Linked DNA regions of Homo sapiens. The protein of the gene in region 4 purifies or fractionates together with the protein of the main gene of each other region. This does not show direct contact. Each region holds a gene or a part of one and is shown on either strand. Other genes may lie near its edges.

Evidence for each region.
Region 1: the proteins of RIPK4 (region 4) and TUBB6 purify together in Homo sapiens (affinity purification with mass spectrometry, with the first as the bait; 2 studies listed by BioGRID). This does not show direct contact.
Region 2: the proteins of RIPK4 (region 4) and MADD purify together in Homo sapiens (affinity purification with mass spectrometry; 2 studies listed by BioGRID). This does not show direct contact.
Region 3: the proteins of RIPK4 (region 4) and TMPO purify together in Homo sapiens (affinity purification with mass spectrometry, with the first as the bait; 2 studies listed by BioGRID). This does not show direct contact.

Annotation. Positions count from the first base shown.
Region 1 is NC_000018.10:12,311,239-12,318,273, reverse strand, and holds part of TUBB6 (tubulin beta-6 chain), read right to left. Parts: intron 1-7,035. UniProt on the Homo sapiens protein: Tubulin is the major constituent of microtubules, a cylinder consisting of laterally associated linear protofilaments composed of alpha- and beta-tubulin heterodimers.
Region 2 is NC_000011.10:47,280,130-47,287,164, reverse strand, and holds part of MADD (MAP kinase-activating death domain protein), read right to left. Parts: intron 5,591-7,035; coding exon 5,412-5,590; intron 4,785-5,411; coding exon 4,549-4,784; intron 4,353-4,548; coding exon 4,196-4,352; intron 2,988-4,195; coding exon 2,884-2,987; intron 2,791-2,883; coding exon 2,600-2,790; intron 2,225-2,599; coding exon 1,971-2,224; intron 1,715-1,970; coding exon 1,575-1,714; intron 733-1,574; coding exon 631-732; intron 1-630. UniProt on the Homo sapiens protein: Guanyl-nucleotide exchange factor that regulates small GTPases of the Rab family. Converts GDP-bound inactive form of RAB27A and RAB27B to the GTP-bound active forms.
Region 3 is NC_000012.12:98,546,587-98,550,883, forward strand, and holds the end of TMPO (thymopoietin), read left to right. Parts: intron 1-986; coding exon 987-1,272; 3' UTR 1,273-3,765; downstream 3,766-4,297. UniProt on the Homo sapiens protein: May help direct the assembly of the nuclear lamina and thereby help maintain the structural organization of the nuclear envelope. Possible receptor for attachment of lamin filaments to the inner nuclear membrane.
Region 4 is NC_000021.9:41,764,035-41,770,934, forward strand, and holds the start of RIPK4 (receptor-interacting serine/threonine-protein kinase 4), read right to left. Parts: upstream 3,019-6,900; 5' UTR 3,008-3,018; coding exon 2,826-3,007; intron 1-2,825.

The DNA.
Region 1 (7,035 bases), on a different chromosome or scaffold from region 4:
ACCCCTTCCCCACCCAACCTAGCAGGCAGCACCTGGCAAAACTACAACATAGGTATTGGGAGGAACAAGCTCGGGGCTGGTCCACACTCGGTGCTAGAACTGTCACATTTTACAAAGGAAAGACCCAGGGCAGCTGTCAAAATAGCCTGGGACCTATTTCATTAAAATAGCAGAAACCAACAACTGAAAATAGTAGGTGGCTTTTGGCAAACATAGAACCCCAATCAATCAGACCTGAGCTAGCTGTAAGTGGACGGAGATGCTGAACTTGACTCCCTCTGCAGCTCACACCATTTACCCAGCTTCCTCAATATTTATAGCATGAATAGCCATGAAGTTTTCTGTGCTCTTGATGAAAGGAGGAAGCTGGTGACTTCTGAAAAATATTTTGCCACTGTCTCATAGCAACAGATGTTCCAGTTAAATATTTGGGAGTTGTGAACTGAACATCTTCTGTACTGATACGGTGTGATGTTAGTCAGTGACTCCAGACAGTTAGCAGGAGGCTGCCAACTCTAAGCTTTTTGGCAGTGGGGCTGCAACAGGTCCCCAGGGTTTTCTCTGAGTCCCCCCTCTGGTTTCAAGCTCACAATGGGTGATGGAATAAGTGTCAAGGGTCTGTGCACTCCTGCCCCCTCTTCTAGCCCTGAATCTGGAAGAAAAAGTTAGAAATACAGAAAGAGGCTGGAAGAACGTTTACCTTTCTGGTGCTTCATTCTTTTCCCACAAAACTTTCCAACAATAGAGTAGGTATGACTGCTATGCAACCAGCAATTCATTACAGAAGTTTTTCTTTTCTTTTTTTTGAGACAGGGTCTTGCTCTGTCGCCCAGGCTGGAGTGCAGTGGCGCAAACACCGCTCACTGCAGCCTCAGCCTCAACCTCCCTAGCTCAAGTGATCCTCCCACCTCAGCCTCCTGAATAGCTGGGACCCCAGGTGCACACCACCACGCCTAGCTAATTTAAAAAAACTTTTTGTACAGAGGGTCTTACTATGTTGCCCAGGCTGACCTTCAACTCCTGGGCTCAAGTGATCTACTTGCCTCAGCCTCCCAAAGTGTTGGGATTACAGGCATTAGCCACTGCCCAACTGGGAAGTTTTCTTTTTTTTTTTTTTTTTGACAGGGTCTCACTCCATCACCCAGGCTGCAGTGCAATGGCTCAATCTCGGCTCACTGCAACCTCCGCCTCTCAGGTTCCAGTGATTCTCCTGCCTCAGCCTCCCGAGTAGCTGGGATTACAGGCACTCATCACGCCTGGCTAATTTTTGTATTTTCAGGAGAGACAGGGTTTCACCATGTTGGCCAGGCTGGTCTCGAACTCCTGACCTCAGATGATCTGCCTGTCTGCGCCTCCCAAAGTGCTGGAATTACAGGTAACTTTCACTTTTAAAAGTATACACTACTAATGTAAGTGAGTGTTTCCTAAATCATTTCAAACTCTATTTGGAAATGGAATGACACTGGTTTATTGTAATTTACCAACTCTAACTGGAACAATATGGTATAAAGCCAGTGAGGATGGATCATCTCCAGTTCACAGACAATTCTGCCTCTTTTACTGGAGAACGACTTAAAAACTATTTAGCTAAACAATATAGAATGTTTATACATTCTGGATACTTCTCCATTCTCCATAATATGTTATTTTAACAAATAAGCATATTCATTTAAACAAGTCACAATTCTTAACTCAAAATGGTGTCAACTTGCTAAAATTCCTATTAAAGACATATCATGTTAGTACAACCTGTTGAAAACTTAAAACATTCTGAATCAAAAATAGGGTTGCAAGTCAGATGAAGCAAAGATGCAAGAAGCAATTTCGGGGACAGTTTTTATGTGCCAAAGGTCATTTCTAACATTTTTGAAGGCTTACAGGGACAATTAGATAACTAAATGGGCACCATAGGTCTGTCTTAATTTGTCTTAATCTTCGTGATCCCATTTGTCAACAGCTAGAAAGACCTTACACTCTCCCAATGTTCAATTCAAATAAACCAAAGAAAACTCACAATTGCTAAAGTGGCAGCTGTGAGAAACTAGCTTCTCACCACTTCAATAGTTTGTGATGCACTCATGTCATAAAGATCAGTTCATGGCTTCGACTCTCTCTTGAGACCTGGCCAGGTCCTGGCTGCACTGCGTTGACTGCTGGTGGGTGAGGCCTCCTCGGGGCACCCATCCAGACTGGGTTGGGTCCCTCAGTTGCTGCCAGGCCTGGGGCAGACTGGGCCGGGGCCAGACAGCCATGACCTGCTGAAAACCTTCTCCATGAAAGCTGCCTTTTCCGTGACCACACCTTTGAGACAACTGATATCTTTTTTTTGACAGAGTTAAGGCATGCAAAAGCATATGAAAAATAATATGAATCTCTACACACCTACTACCCATTTAAGAAATAAAACCGGCCACTGGTACATGAAGCCCTGTGTAACAAGTGTGAGTGTGAACTTACTCAACTATGTAGAATTATATACTTTTTTCCTATTTTATCTCAAAAAGCAGTAATGGGTGTGGCATGAGTTTCGGCTAACCACCCTTCCCCTGGGAAACAGTGCAGCGTGCGCTGAGTTGCATTTTAATGTCCTGCCTTCCGGCTCCTCTATGCGTGAGTCCTGGCGTGATATGTGTGCAGGTTTCTCTGTTTTACGCTGACAATTTACGTCAGTGTAGAATAGAAGGGCCAAATTCAGAGCTGTTCTTACATTTCCTATAAAGTAGTTCTTAAAGCCCTGAGTCTCTCATAAAATAAGCATTCAGTTGCTACGTTTCTTTGAAAAGTTTAATTTCAGGCAAAAGTGCAGCAAAAACTACGCTCTCAGACACTGCTGGTGGCATTAATCCAATTGGAAGTGTGTAAAAAGGGCTTAAATCTCTTCACTCTTTGACCCAGTAATTTTGCTTTTTGAGAATCTATTCTGAAATCAAAGTGAGAAACAGACAAATTTAAGTGAATCAAGATGTTCAATATTCCTTTTAAGAGCAAAAAGCTGAAAAGAAACAGCTTCCTGATTATTGGCCATTATAAAGTTGCATAAAGAATTAATTACACATTATGGAGCTATTAAAAATTATGGATTTTAGAAACTAAATGTGAAATATGGTTTATAATATAATGTTCAATGGAAAAAGATATAAATGATACCATGATTACAATAATGAGAGTCAGCAAAAAGAAACAAAGGTGAAAAAAATACCTCAGTGCTGACAATAATTACACTAAGATGATGAACATACAGAATTTTTTTTTAACTCTAGTTTTAAACTTTTAAGAGTGTGGTTATATTAGTTTTTGCTAAAAAAAAAAAGCAAAGTTTAAAAAGCAAAGCAAAGTACAAATTAAAAATAAATACGAATCACTCAGGATGGTGGGGAGAGCTCCCTTTTAAATATATTAAAAGCATATATTCCCCTTTATGAGACAATGTCAGCTGTGTCACCTGCTGTGCTTCCTTTTTTGGATTTAGTTGCCAGAAACCCAGAGCTAAAATTAATTCTCAGCCACAGCTGAGCTCACAGTTGACTCTGTGTTGTAAACTGCTACATTTATGCCTGTCTTTTACTGTTGTTTCATATCCTTCTTTGAAGAAGGTATATATTTTACATATGTAAAACTTTAAGATCTTTTTTATCTATAAAAATTCACAGATATGCTTGTAACTGTTTCCCAATCTCAGGAAGGACTCCTGCGAGGGAGGCAGGCAGGGAGGGAGGTGGGTTTTCACTGTATGGCCTTTCCAGCTACGCACCATGTGCACACACTGCCTATCAAAGAAGAGGTGTGATTTCTAAAAGGTGTATTAGTTGGAAATACATGAATTGTGTCTGGTAAAGCTTACTGAGACTACGGTAGACTCAGCCAACTATAATTCAGACTCAAGAAATCTTAGCTGTCCGCTCGCTCAGATTCTCACCAAAAATCCACTGAACCTCAAGGAGAAGACTGGGCAGAATTCTACAACAAGTGGGGGAGATAGGGCCATTTCTTCTCGCAGATTCTTACAGGGGTCTGTGACCCCAAGATGCTTGGGGGGGGTCCTTCATTTCAGATAGTAAAATGAAGACCCCCAGAGAAGGGAACTGATGCTGCCAGCGGGCACAGAGCTAGGGTCAGCTGCTCAGTTTCCCTCTCCCGGTGCGGTGCTCTTTCTTCCTGGCTATGTTAACTCTGTGACCTGGGAATGTGGTCCAGAAAGAAGCTGTGGCTGCTGAGTCTATACCTACTTAGTAAGTGAGTTACTCAATGCTGATCTGTATAAAGTAGGATCGTCCTTTTTCCTTTCTCACAATACAGAATATTAATGTTATCCAAGTCAGGTCTTTATTACAGTACTCAGAGAGCAGTCCCTCTGAATTGACAAGGATGACACTGGGCAAGAGGAGCTCTCAGACACCCCCCGTGGGCATGCAAATGGATTCAGCTCTTCTGGAGGCCAATCTGCAATCTCTATGTGTGAGCATTTCTGCAGAACAGATTCCTTGAACTGGAACTCTTGGATGGAAATTATTGATTTGCTCAATCTACTAAGTAGTTCTCTGAACAGCTGTTATTTTCCCAAACACCTTCACCAACACTAGGTCTTAGCAGCTTCTGAAATACTGGCCAATCTGGTGGGAGAATATTTTGTTTTAATTCCCTCTTGCCTCTAGTTAGTAGTAAATTTTGTCCCCAGGTATTTATAGCTTTTATTACAGTTGTGAATAGGATGTGTTCCCCAGTGATTATTGCTTTTAATGTGATTCATCTGTTCCAGTTTGCCTGGGACCCTGGCAGTTTTAGCACTCAAAGTCTAGTGTCCTGGGGAACACCTCCCAGTTCCAGGCAAATCAGAAAGATTGGTAACCTGATCGCAAAACTATTAATTTCTGAATATTTTATCTTGTGTCTGGCTCCCTTACTGAAGTCTTGTAAGTGCTAGTCATTTTTCAGCTGATAGCCTATCTGGAAACTCCAAGAGAATCATTTCATCAACAAATAACACTTTTGTCTTTTCCTTTACATGATTTGCATTTTTTCTTTCTCTGGTTTTTGTGCACTGGCTAAAGCCTTCAGAACATGGAATAATTGTAGAGACAATGGACATCTGTTTCTTATACCTAATTCTGCTGGAAATGCTTCTGTTTCACCAGGGAGTGTAATGTTGCTATGGGTTTCTGGTAGATAATCTGTAAATAAAGGAAGTTTCTTTCTACTTCCAGCTTACATAGAAGTTTTTTTGTCCTCTACAAATCAGGAACACATCCAAAACTTTATCTTTTTTTTTTTTTTTTTGAGATAGAATTTCACTCTTGTTGCCCAGGCTGGAGTGCAATGGTGCGATCTTGGTTCACCCCAACCTCCGCCTGCTGGGTTCAAGTGATTCTCCTGCCTCAGCCTCCCGAGTAGCTGGGATTACAGGCATGTGCCACCACACTGGGCTAATTTTGTATTTTTAGTAGAGATGGGGTTTCTCCATGTTGGTCAGGCTGGTCTCAAACTCCCGACCTCAGGTGATCCGCCCGCCTTGGCCTCCCAAAGTGCTGGGATTACAGGCGTTAGCTACTGCTCCTGGCTTCCAAAACTTTAATCTTTTTTAAAAAATTGTTTCCTGCTGGGAGTCAGAAAAAAAACCCACTTTTTTGGGTCATCTATTAAGATGTTGTCTTTAATCTATTAGTAGACTTCTTAATGTTGAACCATCCTTGCATTCCTGGGATGTTGCTAGTATTTCTCAAACACTTATTTTGTACTAGACATTCTAAGTGTTTATTTAATCCTTACATCTCACTAAGAGGTAGACAGTCCCACTTGTGATGAGGAAATTAAGTCACAAGTAAGTTAAATAAGTCTAAGGCCACATAGTGAGTGGAAGGGCCAAAATTTAAACCCAGGGAGTCTGGCAGCACAGCCAGACTCCTAACCATTACACTGTCTGCCTCTCAGTCTTACTTGGTCACAATGTGCTATTAATATATTTTTTAAAAAACACAACTACATTTGATATTCTAAGTATTTTATTTTGGATTTTTGCATCTATATTTTTAAGTAAGTTTGATATACAGCTTTCACTTGTATGTTCTAGTAGAAGCTACCTAGCCTCATAGGAAATGTTGGGAAGTTTTCCATCATTTTCTCTCTGGAATGGTTTGGATAATGGGATTGTCTGTTACCCTCTATTAAACTATCTCTTCCTGGTGCCTTTTGAGAAAGGGGTTAGAATGTAGATTTTTCATGATGTATTTGATTCCTACACCATAGTGCTTTTAAGCCAGAATCAGTCTTCAAATTCTTCACATTTTCTTGGAAGACACTGCTTTTCACAGGTATTGGAAATATGTTTGATTGAGTGAGGAATTTTTTTTTTTAGCAATAATGTCAATAGATATGTGGTCTCTAACATTAAAATAGGTGGGAAACTTCCAAATCTGCCACCTATCCTGTAGGTTCTACTTGATAACACTAATGGTACCACTTCATGTAATTTTATATAATTTTCTTCAGAAGTCTGCAGAAAGATATGTTTTACTATCATTTTTTAGGTGGAAGAAGCAAGAAAAAAAGGATTTACCTAATTCTGATAAAACCAATATAGGAACCAAAAACAAATGGCAAAATAACTTTATAATGATGGGGAAAAAGAAGCTAATGTCTAAAATTGTTTCTTGGTTTTTGTTTTTTTGTTTTTTGCTATTTTTGAGATGGAGTCTCGCTCTGTCACCCAGGTTGGAGTGCAGTAGTGCAATCTCAGCTCACTGCAACCTCTACCTCCCGGGTTCCAGCGATTCTCCTGCCTCAGCCTCCCGAGTAGCTGGGACTACAGGCACGTGCCACCATGCCCGGCTAATTTTTTGTATTTTTAGTAGAGACAGGGTTTCACCGTGTCAGCCAGGATGGTCTTGATCTCCTGACCTCGTGATCCGCTCGTCTTGGCCTCCCAAAGTGGTGGGATTACAGGCATGAGCCACCGCGCCTGGCTTGATTTTTGTTTTTTAATCAAGAACTACCAGTAGAAGAATTTCATTTAGAGATATAGAGGTTCCTTCCCACCAAAAA
Region 2 (7,035 bases), on a different chromosome or scaffold from region 4:
TTTAGCAGAGACGGCGTTTCGCCATGTTGGTCAGTCTGGTCTCGAACTCCTGACCTCGTGATCCACCCGCCTCGGCCTCCCAAAGTGCTGGGATTACAGGCGTGAGCCACCGCGCCTGGCTTTCACATAAGGTTTTAACTGCCCCTAGAAACTAACCAATACTACCTGGCGCACTCATTAAGCCCTGGGTTGACAGGCTTATGAGTGCGTGAGAGGTGAGAGGCTGTGCTCTATGAACGCTGCCAGGCTCTCCATAACCATTCTCTGGTGGGCCAGCTCCTTGGCACGGAATTTGCCCTAAGTTCATGCAGTGGCAACCCAGCAGACGACTGGGGGCAGCTGATGATCCCTATGTTAATCATATACCCTGACAGGGTCCTCCCGCGAAGCAGCAGTAATCCCACAGTTGCCATTGTCCTAAATGACATAACAGGGCCGTCTCTAGCTACAAAGATGGTTTCCATCTGACAACCATCAGAGCCCAGGATGTGCGGTGAAAGCCATGAGGAGCAACATGAGGGACGACAACCAGGTCAAAGGATTCAGCAGATGCAGGGCTCCTGACATGAACCCACAGCCCGAAACATCTCCCGGAGAAACCTGGCTTGGCAAAAGGAAGGCTGTAGTTACCTTTCAGACTGGGGAAGGGCGTGGCCTTCTCTCGGGCACCTTTGGTGGGCAGTGTGAGGTTTGAAAGACTGAAGCTGGTACTGTGGTTCCGATAGAGGCTGCCTATCAAGGGGAGGGTGCAAGAGCGATGACTTGGCAGAGTAAGTAATCAAAGCAGTAGACTAATGACTATCAGCATCTGCACCTCCCTCCTTTTCAAACACAATCCCAGTTTGGTGGATCAGATCATCTCTGATCTGTCTTAGAAAGGATCAAGTCTAACTCCAGGCAAACAATGGAGCCACTGCCAGGATCAGCCAAAACCCAGTAACAGCTTTCTCTGTCCACCTCACATGATAATATCCAAGTCTCTCATCCACTGCTACACAGCATGAAAGCTGGCAGTTAACAGGCTTCTGGTCTGAAGCTGGCACTGTCCCTCCCTGGCTGCTGAAGAAACTCACAATCACAGGGATCCTCTACGTTCGCTCTCTCTAGTCCATGGTCTGTCTTCAATCTTTAGCTGATACGACCCTGCACTGCTGGGAATACTATCTAAGCACAAAATTCAATCTCATATCGATTTCAAAGCACATTCATGGAAGAGTCCGTTATGAGGCAAAGAAGATACCAGATATGGACTCAAATCAAATTTGACCAGAGTATTTCCACAAAATATAAGTACAAGTGTGTGATTTTGAATTTACTGCCTGTTTTCCAGTTACCCATCCAGCTGTCTTACCTGAAATAGACTGAAATGTCCAGGCATAATGACTAATCTGTCCCTGTCCTTTACTGACCTCACTTGAAAACGCCTTATTCAGTATCACCCAAATGACTGGATTAGGGCTTGCTAATGCCAACCTAGCCCTACATGTGAAGTTCTAAGCAACATTTGCCATAGTCAGGCTCTGCTGTAGAGAAAATGGAACACAGGAGTGAGAGAGACAGCTGAAGGCACTTACTGGCAAAAGACATGATGCCCCCGAAGCCCTCGGTGCTGGTGTTGGAGACGGTGGAGTTGGGAGAGCTTGCCCGAGAGTCTGACTCTGCATCTGAGTCACTTGCCAGTCTCAAGCTGTTGGGCCGCAGCAGCTTTTGAGCCCTTGAATGCACAGAGGCACCTATGATCCCCAGGCAGGGGTACCTGATCTTGGGAGTATGGGCCATAATTATGCTATACTACAGTTGCCACTCCCTTCCCGTAATTCCTAAGCCCCTGGATCAGAACACCATCCTCTGGGGATGGCAGGACCACGAGAGCATTCAGACTTCTCAGACTTTCTGATTAACCCTTGCCCAGGGTCCACTGAGGTGAGGTCCTTCAGTCACCCATCTAGAAGGGATGCCCAGGCTCTCACCGATTGCCACTGACATGTTGGCTGAATCGGGGAGTGTAACTTTCCCCCTGCTCATCCTCATCTTCCTCAGGGGGAAAGCCATATTGGGGCTCGAAGTATGGATTGTCATAGATTCGCCGGCGCACTGACCCCTCTCCAATTTCTGCCTGACGTCTGTCCACGTTCGATTTGCCAATGCTGGGAGGCACGGAAGGGAGGGGCTTGGAGACGCCTACTGCTGCCTTATCATCCATCTCCGTAGAGTCAGCAGGTTCCTAAAGGCCGCATGAAATTAAAAGTGGTTACCTGGTGCCCAATGGTACCTTCCTGTAATCCCAGTTTGGCAGGGCTGGACCAGGCCTGTCAGATTTCTAGCCTAAGGAATGTGTGGGAAATGATCTCTGTAGCACCCGTTCTCTGTCCCCACAAACTATATAAGGGGGATCATAGCTGTACCCTGAACAAAGCCTGATGACCTCCTTTTGGGGTCAAAAGTAGGTCTCTTAGGCTCTAAGCTCTAGGGCCCATGAAGAGGAAGATGAGAAAATTGTGTGAGAAGCAGCAAATGAATAGCTACAGCCTGGCTTTCCTAATAGATGAGGCCCACATCCCAGGCCATGGTTCTCACTCATCCACCGCTCCTCACTTACAGAGTTGGCTCCGTGGATGACAGTGCTGGGGCTGCTGCTGGCTGTGGTGCTAGAGCTGGAGCGCAGTGGGGGGTTTTCCTGAGAGTTCTCACTGTCTGGGCCAGGCTCTTCTGCTTCCTTCTGATTCTGCAGCTCGTCAATCTCCACCTCGCTGGCATCCCCCAGTGCTGCATGTGTCAGAGGGTCCACATCTGCCAAAATCCAAGGGAGGCAGGTACAGACCACTCCATCCTTGGGCCCCCAACCCCTGCCCAGGGCTGGCCAATCTCCCCAAGCACACTTACTGGGAGTATCACCATTAATGTCACATTTCATCATTTCACTGACAAAGTCACCAAGGGAGGAGTAAGAAGAGCTTGAATCGTCATAATCCATACTATCACTGCCACTGCAGAGTGAAGTGCATAAAAAACAAACAAAACAGAAAGGGGCAGGGAGAACACCTACAATCAGCACCAGGAAAAATAAAAGGGGGAGCACTCCGAACTCAAGGCCAGGGAACAAATCAAATAAAGAAGCCAAGAAAAACAGTCAACCAAAGCATAAAGACTGATATGGGGGCCGGGACAGTGGCCCATGCCTGTAATCCAAGCACTTTGGGACGCTAAGGCGGGTGGATCACCTGAGGTCTGGAGTTTGAGACCAGCCTGGCAAACATGGTGAAACACCATCTCTACTAAAAATACAAAAAGTAGCCGGGTGCAGTGGCTCGCGCCTGTAATCCTAGCACTTTGGGAGGCCGAGGCAGGCGAATTGCTTGAAGGCATGAGTTTGAAACCAGCCTGGCCAACATGGTGAAACCTTGTCTCTACTAAAAACACAAAAAATTAGCTGGGCGTGATGGCATGTGCCTGTAATCCCAGCTACTCGGGTGGCTGGGGCAAGAGAATCGCTTGAACCCGAGAGGCGGAGGTTGCAGTGAGCCCAGATCACGCCACTGCGCTCTAGCCTGGGCGACAGAGCAAGACTCCATCTCAAAAAATATATATATACAAAAATTAGCCAGGCAAGGTGGCAGCACCTGTAGTCCCAGCTACTTGGGAGGCGGAGGCAGGAGAATCACTTGAACCTGGGAGGGAGAACTTGCAGTGAGCTGAGACGGCACCACTGCACTCCAGACCGCGTGACAGAGCAGCAAGACTCTGTCACATACATACAAAAATAAATAAATAAGGCCGGGCGCGGTGGCTCACGCCTGTATTCTCAGCACTTTGGGAGGCCGAGGCGGGCAGATCACAAGGTCAGGAGATCGAGATCATCCTGGCTAACACGGTGAAACCCCATCTCTACTAAAAATACAAAAAATTAGCCGGGCGTGGTGGCGGGCGCCTGTAGTCCCAGCTACTCGGGAGGCTGAGGCAGGAGAATGGCATGAAGCCGGGAGGCGGAGCTGGCAGTGAGCCGAGATTGCGTCACTGCACTCCAGCCTGGGTGACAGAGCGAGACTCCGTCTCAAAAAAATAAATAAATAAAATAAAATAAAATTAAAAACACTGATATGGGAAGCCTATGAGACTTTGCCTTCTCTGTGCTAAAGAAGGGCTAGTGAGAGCCTCCTCACCTTTAAAACCTTTTTGCTGCCCTAAGGATGCTCACCTATCATCAGTAGGTTCGGAGTCAGAGTCCCGCTCTGGTGGTACACTCAGGGCCTCAGCCAGCTGGGAATTGCTGTCATAGACGCGATAGTGGATAGGCTGCAGCTGATGAGCATACCACTTTGGCTTGTCACCAATCAGGGCTGGATCAAACATATCTACCCCATGAGGGAAAAGAACAGAAAGTCAGCAGCAAGGAAAAAAAGGCAAGCAACGCCTGAAAGAAAGGCAGGAAAAAGTCTAAAGCAGAGCCAGGATAGAAGGCACAGGTCAAACATTAGCAAAGGAAAAATCAAAGTCCATCAGGAGGACAGAGGCACAAGGCAGAGCGGAGCAGAGGGCAGGTAGACTCACTGTTGTGAATTCGCTGAAAGGCATAGTTGGTGGGGTTAAGGATCCATTCCCCAAAGTACTCCACAGCCTGAGTCCTGGCCAATTTCTCGGCAAAAGGAGTCTGCCGGGGACGTGAGGCTAGAAAGGAGCCAGCTTGAAAAGCTACCACAGGCCGAGGAAAGAGGCGCAGGGTACGCGTGTGCATCTGAAATCCCTGCAGCACGTTGGCGGAATTGAAGAACCGTACCATGGCAACCCTGGGGAAGCAGATGATGAGATAATCTGAGACCCATAGGGTAAGGATTCCCATGATCCAAAGTCTTAGAACACCTCCCAAAGCCATCACTTAACAGGCTTCCAACATCAAGGGGAGAGATATCTTAAAGAATCATCAGCCCCCTCTTCATCCTGAGCACGTGGTTTACTATTTCTTCACTTTGATTTTACTAAGGTGGAAAATAACAACCAAATATAGTATATATTTTATACATAAAGAAACCCTGGGCTGGGTGCGGTGGCTCACGGCTGTAATCCCAGCACTTTGGGAGGACAAGGCGGGTGGATCAACTGAGGTCAGGAGTTCCAGACCAGCCTGGCCAACATGGTGAAACCCCGTCTCTACTAAAAATGTAAAAATTAGCCAGGCGTGGTGGCAGGCGCCTGTAATCCCAGCCACTCAGGAAGCTGAGGCAGGAGAATCACTTGAACCCGGGAGGTGGAAGTTGCAGTGAGCTGAGATTATGCCATTGCACTCCAACAAGAGTGAGAATCTATCTCAAAAAAAAAAGGAACCCTGGTTCAGAGAAATAGTCTGCCCCAAGGTCCCTTAGAGAGCAAAGAAATTAATTTAAGAACTTGTGATTATACAGTCGGCTTGGTCTTACCTGGTTGCAACATCCACAGAATCCACATCATTGCCATAGATGAGTGGGTTGAATTCAGTGGACGGTGTGGACTGCAGGTCATTAGAAGGCCTTCCCAAGAGAAGGGGGATCTCCTGGCCCTCATGAAATTTCTCCAGATTGAGGATGGGCTGGGTGTTGAGACTCATGCTGGCCAAGGCCTGTGGAACAACAAGAAAATTCCTTACACAAGGAACGTCCCTGGGCAGCTAGCCAATCTTAACTCCAAGGAAAAGGCCTTCCTAAGGTCTGCTACCTCGTATTCTCTGGTCAAAAAGTTCTGCAACAAAGAACGGTGCTAATTTGCAAATCACGGCCAACCCATTTCAGACCTTTCATCTTTGAAATAAAAATCCCAATATTCTAGCCTTTAGAAAACAGTTTGAAATATGTAGCTCTCCATCTTAAGACAACCTAGCTCAAGGCAACTTGATCTTATCTGAAGTCCACGACAGTCGTTTGCAAAATTATTATAGTCATTAAATGTTTTTTAAAATTGGAATCTATGTGAAATTATATAGAATGGAAATTTGAAAACAGAGCTGCTCTGAAGGACACAGGAAGCAGAGCCTCAAATGCTCAGGGCTCCCAAGCTAAATCGGCCCCTCAGAGGCTCAATGGGGCAGCGTGAAGACCACTGGTCGAGAGCAGCAGTGCTTCTCAAATGTGAGTGAGGAGAAGAATCACCAGGGGAGGCTGTTAAAATGCAGATCCCGATTCAATATGCCTGGAGTGATCCTGCACTTTAACAAGCCCGAGTGATGCTAATGTTGCTGGTTCACAAACCACACTTTGAATAGCAGGAGTTAGAACACAGGATCAATGAGTCCAAGGATCTTAGCTCCTACAAACATTTAAAATATAATTCTGGCTGGGCACGGTGGCTCATGCCTGTAATCCCAATACTTTGGGAGGCCAAGGCAAGTGGATCACCTGAAGTTAGGAGTTTGAGACCAGCCTGGCCAACATGATGAAACCCCAGCTCTACTAAAAATACAAACAAATTAGCTGGGCACAGTGGTGTGTGCCTGGAATCCCAGCTACTCAGGAGGCTGAGGCAAGAGATTCGCTTGAACTTGGGAGGCAGAGAATGCAGTGAGCCAAGATTGTGCCACTGCACTCCAGCCTGGGTGACAGAGTGGGACTCCATCTCAAAATAAATAAATAAATTAATTAATTAATTTAATTAAATATAATTCCATTTATTAACCTCTCCATCTCATTAGTCATACTAAAGCAATCATCAAGACTGAAAACACAGCAAGTGAAGGCAGCTAGAGAACTTTCTGAACTTAAAATTCCCACTAGACTCTGCAGTAACAAGGTATCATATTATATTAGCAGTGATGAAGCAACTGAGGTGAGAGGGATGAAACACAATGACCCATTTAAACCCAAACATAGCATCTAGAGATACTACTAAGTACTTCAGACAACACAGAAAAAGATTTCTAAAGGCCCTTCAAATGAGAGCAGGGATTCCTAAAAATAAACACAGTGTTATCTACTGGTGTTCCTGTACAACACATAAGGCAGAGGAAGGGAATGAAGCTTTGTCATGTGTTACCTTCAGGTACTGTGTTCAGCATGCAGAGGAAGAAGAAAA
Region 3 (4,297 bases), on a different chromosome or scaffold from region 4:
GTCCCAGCTACTCAAGAGACTAAGGCAGGTGGATTGCTTAAGCCCAGGAGTTCGAGACCAGTCTGGGCAACATAATGAGACTCTGTCTACCCACCGACTTTTAAATAAATAAGTGAACGAACTGTTCTTTTGGGAGCAGTTTAATTCCCCTAAGCCCACCAGTAAATATTCTTGAAAGTTGAATGAGTTTCAAAATTGCGATTGGTAAATGGAGGATTTTAAATAAATCACTTACTTACTACTTAAATTCATATGTTAAAATCTAAACGAAAATCTAGTGAGAAATAGTTTTTCCCCCCTAAGTTTCTCTTTTCTAATTGAAAAGGCTGTGTTTATGTATCTTAATTTTTAACTGAAAGAAACACAGCCAAAACTGTTTTGTTTTTCCTCTTTACTCCTAAACATGAGCTTTGAAGAGCCTTTAAGAAGGCAGGTTTAGTGACTATTTATCAGTGTTCTGAATATTCTTTTCTAATAAAGGATGCATCGAACTTTTTTTTTTTTTTTGAGACGGAGTTTTGCTCTGTTGCCCAGGCTGGAGTACAGTGGCGTGATCTCGGCTCACTACAACCTCCACCTCCTGGGTTCAAGCGATTCTCCTGCCTCAGCCTCCTGAGTAGCTGGGATTACAGGCACCCACCATCATGCCCGGCTAATTTTTGTATTTTTGTAGAGACAGAGTTTCACCATGTTGGCCAGGCTAGTCTTGAACTCCTGACCTCAGGTGATCTGCCCGCCTTGGCCTCCCAAAGTGCTGGGATTGCAGGCGCGAGCCACCATGCCCAGCCCATCTAACTTTTAAAATAGAAAATATGTAGAAGTTTTAAATAGGTTGACTGACCTCACTGCTTTATATGTATCAATTTTCTACTGTTACCTCAGGGAATGTGCTTGGAATTAGGAGTGGCAATGACATTTTATGTTATTTCTCTAAATCATGCCTTTATCTAAAATTATTTTTCTTTTCCTCCTTTCACTCCCAACAGTGCTAGTTGCCGCAGACCAATCAAAGGGGCTGCAGGCCGGCCATTAGAACTCAGTGATTTCAGGATGGAGGAGTCTTTTTCATCTAAATATGTTCCTAAGTATGTTCCCTTGGCAGATGTCAAGTCAGAAAAGACAAAAAAGGGACGCTCCATTCCCGTATGGATAAAAATTTTGCTGTTTGTTGTTGTGGCAGTTTTTTTGTTTTTGGTCTATCAAGCTATGGAAACCAACCAAGTAAATCCCTTCTCTAATTTTCTTCATGTTGACCCTAGAAAATCCAACTGAATGGTATCTCTTTGGCACGTTCAACTTGGTCTCCTATTTTCAATAACTGTTGAAAAACATTTGTGTACACTTGTTGACTCCAAGAACTAAAAATAATGTGATTTCGCCTCAATAAATGTAGTATTTCATTGAAAAGCAAACAAAATATATATAAATGGACTTCATTAAAATGTTTTTGAACTTTGGACTAGTAGGAGATCACTTTGTGCCATATGAATAATCTTTTTTAGCTCTGGAACTTTTTGTAGGCTTTATTTTTTTAATGTGGGCATCTTATTTCATTTTTGAAAAAATGTATATGTTTTTTGTGTATTTGGGAAACGAAGGGTGAAACATGGTAGTATAATGTGAAGCTACACATTTAAATACTTAGAATTCTTACAGAAAAGATTTTAAGAATTATTCTCTGCTGAATAAAAACTGCAAATATGTGAAACATAATGAAATTCAGTAAGAGGAAAAGTAACTTGGTTGTACTTTTTGTAACTGCAACAAAGTTTGATGGTGTTTATGAGGAAAAGTACAGCAATAATCTCTTCTGTAACCTTTATTAATAGTAATGTTGTTGTAGCCCTATCATACTCACTTTTTAAGACACAGTATCATGAAAGTCCTATTTCAGTAAGACCCATTTACATACAGTAGATTTTTAGCAGAGATCTTTTAGTGTAACATACATATTTTAGAGAATTGTTGGCTAGCTGTACATGTTTTGAAAAGCTGTTTAGCTAGCTATAAGGCTATAATTGGAAATTTGTATTTTTTATTTACAGCAAAACATTTATTCAGTCATCCAGTTTGCTACCAAAATATGTTTTAGATAAGTGTGTGTATGTTTGTTTAGAAGTTAGAAATTGTAAACACTGGTCTTATGTTTCATTTGGATTCATTATTGCATTGTCTTGTTACCAGAAACAAATTTTGCCGAGCTTTTTTTGCCCTATATTTCCCAGCATAATTTGATTAGAAAGTACAAAAAGGGCCAGGCGCGGTGGCTTACGCCTGTAATCCCAGCACTTTGGGAGGCCAGGGCGGGTGGATCACGAGGTCAAGAGATCAAGACCATCCTGGCCAACATGGTGAAACCCCGTCTCTACTAAAAATACAAAAAAATTAGCTGGGCGTGATGATGTGCGCCTGTAGTCCTGTCTACTAGGGAGACTGAGGCAGGAGAATCGTTTGAACCCAGGAGGCAGAGGTTGCAGTGAGCAGAGATTACGTCACTGCACTGTAGCCTGGCGACAGAGCAAGACTCCATCTCAAAAAAAATAAAAAAGTACAAAAAGTACTTGCTTTTATATTACATCATAAGCAGTAGTTAATAAAGTTGTATACTCTTAAGAGGTGGGCATTATGATTATTTTTTATTTTTTTATTTTTTATGAGATGGAGTCTCACTCTTGTCACCCAGACTGTAGTGCAGTGGCACGATCTGGGCTCGATGCAACCTCTGCCTCCCAGGTTCAAGCAATTTTCCTGCCTCGGCAGAGACGGGGTTTCACCATGTTGGCCAGGCTGGTCTCGAACCCCTGACCTCAAGTGATCAGCCCACCTCAGCTTCCCAAAGTGCTGGGATTACAGGTGTGATCCACTGCACCCGGCCGGCATTATGATTTTGTGTACTCTTGAAATGGTTATCTTTGTGGATGATTTTTTTTTTTAAGCTGAAACTTACCTCATGAATAACTTGATTAAAGTAGTAGGTGATTAAAATTTCAATAGAATCAAATGAGACAAAAATTTTAAACTGACTCATTTGAGTTTCAACTTTACAGTCATTGACCATAAAGCACACTAAAAATGTAAGTTATTTTTAAATACATCTGAAATAAAAATACTTACTAAAAAGGAAGAAGCCGAAGATGTATATTTAGACCAGCACACAATTTTGATTTCAATTAGCCTTATTCTAATATTTAGCTTTTAGATCTTTCATACACATTTTCACGTACTTTGCAATTGAGACCAGAAAGACTTGTAGGTCTTTCTGCAGAATGAGTGGGTCCTTGCAAAGTGAGTGGGAAACTTACTCCTAGATCAGAAATGTTTGCCTCTCTGAGTAAAATGTTTCTTTCAGATGAGCCATAGAGGGGGCACCTTTTACTCAACTTTTCTTTGTTTTGAAACTTTGTTTCCCATACTGTTTTCAGCCTTTTGTTTATAATTAGAAATTGTGAGAAGCTTCATTTAGTGTTTAAAAATGTGGGGAGATAAATCAGACTTAACATGTATGTAAGATCAATTCACTTAAAAGTATGGTCCAAATAGCAAAAATAGGACCAGGTGAAACATGTAGTCATTTTTTAAAAACATGTACTTGGTCTTTTGTGTGTGTCTGTTTTATTCCATTAGAATAAATGTGTCCTTGATGTAAATGCAAAGCATTTCTTCCTGATTAAATTGTAGATGTAGACTTTACAATATAATTCAATAATAAAAAGTAATTAACCTCTAGTTTTGTCGTTGCAATAAATGGTTTTCAGATAGCACAAACTGTGATTTCTGGATAACATTTCTTATGTGATATTTATGGATTATTGTGTTTTATTTCAGTCTGTTCATATGTTTTACTTCTTATTGTAATCGGGTTCTCGTTTATTCAAAGGTAAGCAATGTGTAGCTACTGTACTCACAGAATGACATTAAGCGCTCCAAGGCACCTCTCCCACACCTAGTTCCTTTTTCCCACCACTTTTACTGTCTTTAGTATTTACCTATGACCCTTATGATTGTTAGTCTTGCTTTGAGACTAAGCCCGTGTCACTGTGATACGTCATGGAGCTGTGCTCACAAGATGAAAGTGCCATTATGTCTTCCTCATTCATGTGTCCCCAGAGGTGATTTGACTTAAATTAGTGTTTCTCAAGGTAGTATAGACACCATAATTAATTATAAGGCAAATCGCATCAAAGGCTTAAAACAACAAGTTTTATTGCATGCTTACCATGTGCTAGGTACTTTTCTATGTGCTTAATATGTATTGATTCACTCAATCCTCACGATAATCCTATGGAGTAGGCATTTT
Region 4 (6,900 bases):
AGGCACCGAGCCCCATGATGAAGGTAATCTCAGATCAATGGGGTGTCACCTGTGAACTCCCAGGAGGGCCCCCTGGCAGGCACTTCCTGTCCCTGGGAGCCTCGCTAAGTGTCTGGGGGCTGGGCGGCCCCCCAACCTTTCCTGCACAGAAAAGCAAGCTCACATGGCCTGGCGCAGCCTGCTCATCAAACAAGCCCCGAGCAGGTGCTGTGGCCAAGGGCCGGCTGAAGGCCTGGCCCAGGGGAGCTGCAGGGAGCCAGGAGACCCCAGACCACCTTGAGAGGCAAGCAGCGTTGGCCAGTGAAAATCAGCCTCACCTGCACCTGTACCTGTGGTGGCTCCTATGTAACAAGTGGACTAGACCATCACTGACCCCCAGCAGCCTGGAAGAGGCCCAGACCCGTGTGTCAGGGGTGAGAGGGGCTGTCCCTCCGAGAAGAGAAGCAAGACTTAGGCAGAAGGGGTACAGGGCCGGGGGCTGCACACAAAGACCCTAGGAGAATCCTATGCCCCAATTCAGGGAACATCTTGCAAATATGAGGGGCTGGGGTGGGAGGCAGCTCGTCAGAAAAGCACTGAGAAATGTGGCAGGGCAAGTGGCACAGCGACTACTTCAAGGCCTAGGTACAACCTTGTGAGACTGCAATGCAACCAGCTCCTGGAGCACAGTGGGACTGATGTACATTCCTAACAAGAACCTCAGGCTCAATACAGTCAATAATTAACCTAAAGGAATCAGCTTCACAAAGAGCCAGGGTTTGACCAACTTCTCAGAAAGATCAGCCACTGCTGCACATGGCAAAGCCCCAACCTACTCTACCAGGCCCAGCAGAGCACAGGAGGTGAAATGCTTCCTGCTAGGCGATGCTGACCTCGACCTAGCCACCTGACATGCCACCACCTGTCTGCTTTGGGCAGGGTAGGAAAGGCTTCCAGTTAAAGTACAAAACACTTTTCAACCAAGCTATGCAATATCCTAAGTGATCCACCTTAAGTGGAGAAAGCCTCCCTCCAACCAGGCCACCCAAGAAATAAGGGACTGGTCGCTAGAAATAACAGAAGATCCTAAGGATGTGAGCTGGTGAGTCAGTCCAGGTAGGTGCTTGTTTACTTTGCTCTTCCAATATAAGAAAGTGGTGTGAAAATTTTCACTGATGATTAAAGCTCACACACATCCCCAAGAGATAAAACGAATGCCCCTATGGAGAGGGTTCCCTTTCAGAACCTAACCACTGGCTGGTATTCAAAGTGGTTTGGATTTCATCAAAATAACCACAGCACCCCTCCTGGCCTGAGAAGTTCCCAGAATCTGAGGCAGGGGAGAAAAAGTGCACAGCCTGGGCCAGCATCTCACCTTTGAACTAGTGGTGATTTGATGACACTCGTCACCACTCTACTGGTGTTTCCAAGAAACACTGGATTTGAGGGTTACGGCAAAAAGCCACCACTATCTCTGCTGTGTAGTCTCCTAGCCAAGGACGAAAATGCAAAGGGAGAGGACAGGCCTCTCATCCACAGAGGCGTCACAGTCACGGTATGGGGCTGCAGCACGCACTGCCACCCCAGACACAGGCATCACAACGATTCTGCAGAAAAGCTGGGGCTTAGCGGCCCCATCACTCAATCAGCCGAGCATTCGAAACCAGGTCTGCCAGGCAGCAAAGGCTAAATGGTATTTTAAAAAGGTGTCGCTTCTGAGTGTATGTGTTCAAGGAATCTCTAGGTAAAATACAAGCATAGCTTCCATGTAGAAGGTAAGCTTCATTAAAGGATAAATAATTAAAACGTGCTAAATTGAGCCTTACATATGAACCATCAAAATCAACTGTAAACAGTGAAATCTACAACAACAAAGAGGTACTGTTCAAGAACATTCTCCCTACCTCTCAAATTATGCACAGACGACAACCGACCCACCGAATTTAACACGGGCGGCTCTGCGTCCTTCCCATTCGTCTTTGTTACCTTGAACACTCCTGCTAGGTAGGTACAGGCAGGTTCCATTCTGACTTTTGGACTGGGAAACTGGGGTGCAGGAGGGCCCCATGGCACGGCCACAGAACTTGAATGCAAGGCCCTTCCCTAGCGGGTCGGTCTCGAAATTAAGTCAGCTAAAACGAGAGTGTGCGGCGAGGAAGCGCTGGGCGGACGGATCAACACCCCGGGCCCCGTGCCGGACCCCACTGCCAGGCCCGAGCCCCGGAGCTCCACCGCGCAAGCGCCGGGCGCCCGGGAAGCCTCGCCCGAGCCAAGCCGAAGCTTCCGACCGAAATAATTACAGTCTTACACCAATTTGTGTTCCAACGTAAATTACTAAGTAAGTCGAACGGAGGCTAACTCCACTCACAAAGCCCAGAGGCCCACATGGCAATTTTTCTAAGCCCTGCGCAGACCGCAGCGCCCCGGTGGGTCCCGGGCGGGCCGGACGCGCCTCCCAAGGGCGCGGGTCCGAGGCGCAAGGCGAGCTGGAGACCCCGAAAACCAGGGCCACTCGGGGAGTGTCAGGAAGCACGACTGGGCGCCTTAGGACGTCCGGGCAGACGCGGCCCCCGAGGAGCCCCAGAGGAGCCCCAGAGGAGCCGCCTGACCCGGCCCCGACGTGCGCGATCGAGCCCGGGCTCGCCAAAGCCCCCGCGCCCCTCCGGCCCGGACAGGCCGAGTGGACATTGTCGGAGCCCCGCGGCCTCGCCGGCAATTGGTTTCCCCCCCGAAGCTGCTCCGGGGGTGAGTTCGGGAGAGAGAGGCAGGACCCCGGGACCAGAGCACCCCGACCCCGACCCCAGCCCGGGCCCCAGCCGCCCCAGCGCCCCGCCCGGGCCGCTCACCTGTCGTCGACGTGCAGGCTGGGCGAGCACTTGATGGCCAGCCAGGTCTTCCAGTGGACATGGCGCACCTTGTACACCTGCCCGAAGCCGCCCGAGCCCACCTTCTCCCAGCCCGTGAACTCGCCCGCGTCGAAGGTGCGCAGCAGCGCCAGGGCCCATGGGGTCCCGCCGTCGCCCTCCATCGCGCACGTCTAGCCAGCGCCGCGGCGGCTGCCCAGGTGCCCAGGTGCGCGCTCCGCCCTGTTACGTCACTTCCGTAGGTCGTCCCGCCCCCAGGCCCCGCCCACTTACCCGCCCCCCGGGCGCCCTCTCTGCCAGCGCCCGGTGACTGCGGACGGATGAATAGACGCTGCGGGTCACTGCGCTCTCCCCTGGGTGAGCAGAGCTTCTCACGCTTCTCACGGGTCTCGACGTGCGCATCAGCTGCCCTGCTTTTCTTTGCTTTTTTTTTTTCCTTAATTGCGGAGTCACATGCAGTTGTAAGAAATCATTCACTTTGCCTAGTTTCCCCCAGTGTTACCACTTTGCAAAACTTTGCCAAAAAAAAAAGTCCAATCTCACAACCAGGATATTGACTTTGATACAGTCACCGATCTTATTCAGTTTTGCCGTTTTACTCGTCTTCCTTTGCATGTATTAGTTTTACACAATGTAATCATCTGTGTACCTTCCCGTATCCACCCCCACCTGGCCACTCCTGTGGCGATTTTACAGCCGCACCCCGGAGCCCTGGCATCACTAATCTTTCCTCTATTTCTAAAATTGTTTTATTTCAGAAATGTTATGTTTAGATACAGGAATCATACAGCGCCTAATTTTTTGAAATTGGCTTTCTTCACTCGTTAGTCTAATTCCCTGCAGGTTCACGTCTTGCTTTTTTACACGAGTTTCCTCTCAGAAAGTAACTTTTTTTAAAAAATTACCCAACAGCAAATCTAAAGTCCATTTCAAATGCAAGAGTTCCCTCATCCTTTCCTAAATAACAGCCTCTTTTTACAGGTAGAACAGATGGTTTGAAAAGGAAAGATTTTTTTTTCACATATGGGGAAAAAAAATTCCCAGCCTTGGAAGGATATTTGGGTTAGAGGCCGAAGTGCATCACAGATCACGCACGCGTCCACACCTCAGAAAACACTCACTCATTCCTGAGACGCAACGGTGAGTGAAGGCTTATTTTTGGCCACAGGAGATTAATAATGAAGACAGGAGGGCGGAGCTAAAGGAGAGGGTATTTTAACGACATTAACTGTGTTTTTGTGTTAGTAACTCGGAAAGAGAGAGGCTGCCCCAAGTCAGCGCATTGAAAGCCGCAGACCTAGTGTCTCCAGGCTCCCCCTTCCAAACGGGCGCGGACCTTCTTTCATAGCCTGTAGCGGGGAGCCGCGTCTCCCCACTGCCTCCCCACTCCCATCCGGCCGCTCTTTGGAGGGAACTCACACATCCCAACATGACGATGCTTGCTCGGGGGGCCTCCTGGGGGGACCAGGGAGCCACTTCCTTTCCCACATACTCCGGAAATTAAAGTTGGTCTCCTTAAGGCTGGAGTGGCAAATAGTTGTTTTAAGCTTGTCACAAATGTAACTTACATTTGGACTAATGTTTTAAAAAATAATTGGAGTTTTGAATCTACGAAGATACCTTGGAAGTAAACATAGTTATTATTTTGGTGGGAAAAAAATGAATGGACTTGAAAGTGAGTCACCTGTCCTGTTCCCGGGGCTCAGCTCTAGCAAAGTACCTTTCTCCATCTACAGTCTCCGGCACACAGCTCCGCAGCTGGGGGTGACTAAGAGCCCACACCACGCAAGTAATAAAACGCTCCAATTTCATTTATTTAATCATCTGTGTGCTTCATTTGACAAATATTTATGGAGTGTCTGCTGCTAGCTCAGTGCCTGGTGCCTGGGACTGAAGACCAGAGCCCCCTGGAGACCAAAAGAGCCAGCTCCCAGCTGTGAGCAGATCGGGTCCAAAGATCACGGGCTCGGCGGCAGGAACCTGGTTTGGTATCCGGCTCCTCTGCGGACTTTGAAGTGCTTTACCGATTCACATGACAACTGGTAAAACGAAAACAAACACCTTTCCAGGAATTGTGAATTCGAGTTCCAGACCCTCTGGGATTCCGGGAGCGCAGCTGCTATTTATGTTAACAGTCATTGGTCCCAGGCTGGTGAGGTTAGAATTTCCAAGTATAAAAGTAATTTAGTTTCGTTTTAAATACATTTTAGGGCCAAAGAAAAGTGGAACGATTTAAAGAAAAAGATGAAATGAATAATAGGGCAAGTTGGGAGGTGGCTGTCCTGAGGTTTCATGGGACAACATTAATTAACCTCATGAAGTGCCTGCATGGACAACGTGCCCGGTGTGGTTACAAACAAACCAATCAGCACAGATCCTGGGTGGAAAGCAGGGCGCAGCCACGGAGGCACAGTAGGGGTGCAGACTTGAAGGTTTTTAGGAGGTAAGCCCCGAGGGCACGAAGCTCCACGGAGAGACTGTTGACCCGCCTGGGAGTGCAGTGCAGGTGAGGAGGGGAGGGACGACGAGGGGAGACAATGGGGGGTGGGAGGTGGGAAGGAGGAGTTGGGGAAGGGGGCTGTCTGCTGACATTTGCAAGCCCCCACTCCCCCACTACCCTGTGTTCCTCCTGGCCCCTTCCCCAGAAGAATTCCAAGCCAGTTTCCTCCTATACTGGATGTCCTGACAGCGAATCTAAATAGGTGATCCCTTGAGCTCCAGGTCCCCAAGCTGTGCCCTTCTTCATAGGGGGCCATTTAGCACTGACCCACCCAGCAGGCAGCCCAAGGTCCCTGGTCTGGAAGTGCCAGGAAGCTGCCTTTAACATCCTACCGCAGGGAACAATGAAGGTTGCCGGCCAGGGAGAAGACAGGATAGAGACGTCTCTGGGTTTGCAGCCAGCCTGCCTCAGATGGGGTCCCAGGCTGTGACCATGGTGCATTTGCCTGTCCCTGACATGTGGGATAGAGGGACCTGCTTCGAGATGTCGGTGGGGATCCACGCAGATGATAATTATATGTGTGTGGCACATGCCAGGCCATGGGTGAATAGTGAGATTTTCAATTGAGTCATTTTCGTCTTTGTCCTTCTCAGGGTCCTGGAGCAACTCAACCCTTGTAAGTGCATGGCTCAGTGAGATCGTGGAGCTGACATAGGGCTGACCTGGCTCTCAGAGGCCCCAGAATAAAGCTGGAGCCCCTGGGGTCCACCTGCTGGCATGACCATGGGACAGGGGCGTGGAGCTGAGCTGGGTCAGCCACCTGGGAACATAGTCCCCTCCCGCCAGGCCTCTGCACCCAGCCTCCTCCCTGCTTAGTAGGCTCCTCCCTCCCCTACAACAGCCACTCCTGCCACCACTTGCATGGTTGTTTTTGAGAATTCCCTCCGCATTGTGTTATTTTCTAAAAGAACATAACTTGTTCACTGCAGAGATTCTGCCTTCACTAATTCTGACAAAGTGATTTAGGGGAGACATTGAGGGCCTGACTCGCGAGGGCTCCCAGACCACCTCTGGGAGACCCATCTCCACCTGACACCCAACTCCTCGCTCTTACTCAAGCAAATATTTTCTATTTACACAAACACTTCCTTATCAGAGACAGCTCCTCCTTTGACCCATTGGTTCCATGAGTCTTCCTGCAGGATCATACATTCCGTGTCCTGGGAACACAGCATAAAGGGTGCTGTTCAGCAACCTAGGGGCTTGTGTCTGATGGCAGAAGCCATGAAGCAGATGGGGGATGAATTATAATTGTAGTAATGCTACGTTCTAATCTGCTTTGCACCCTCATGCTCCACTCCATAGTCTTTAAATGTGGGGCTTCTTAAAACACCAATTTGGAGCCTCCCTGATCCTCCCCTCTTTCCCCAGGCAGCTCATCCAGGCTCACCTCAGCTTCCATGTATTCTACGAAGATCCCTAAGCTTCTGTCTGCAGGCCAGACCTTTCCTCTGAGCCTCAAACCCCCAAAACTTAACATGGTGCCCACAGTAGGATGTACCTAAGGCACCGCTACCCATTTGAGATAAGCCTATGCTTTTCACCCCCAAACTGGTT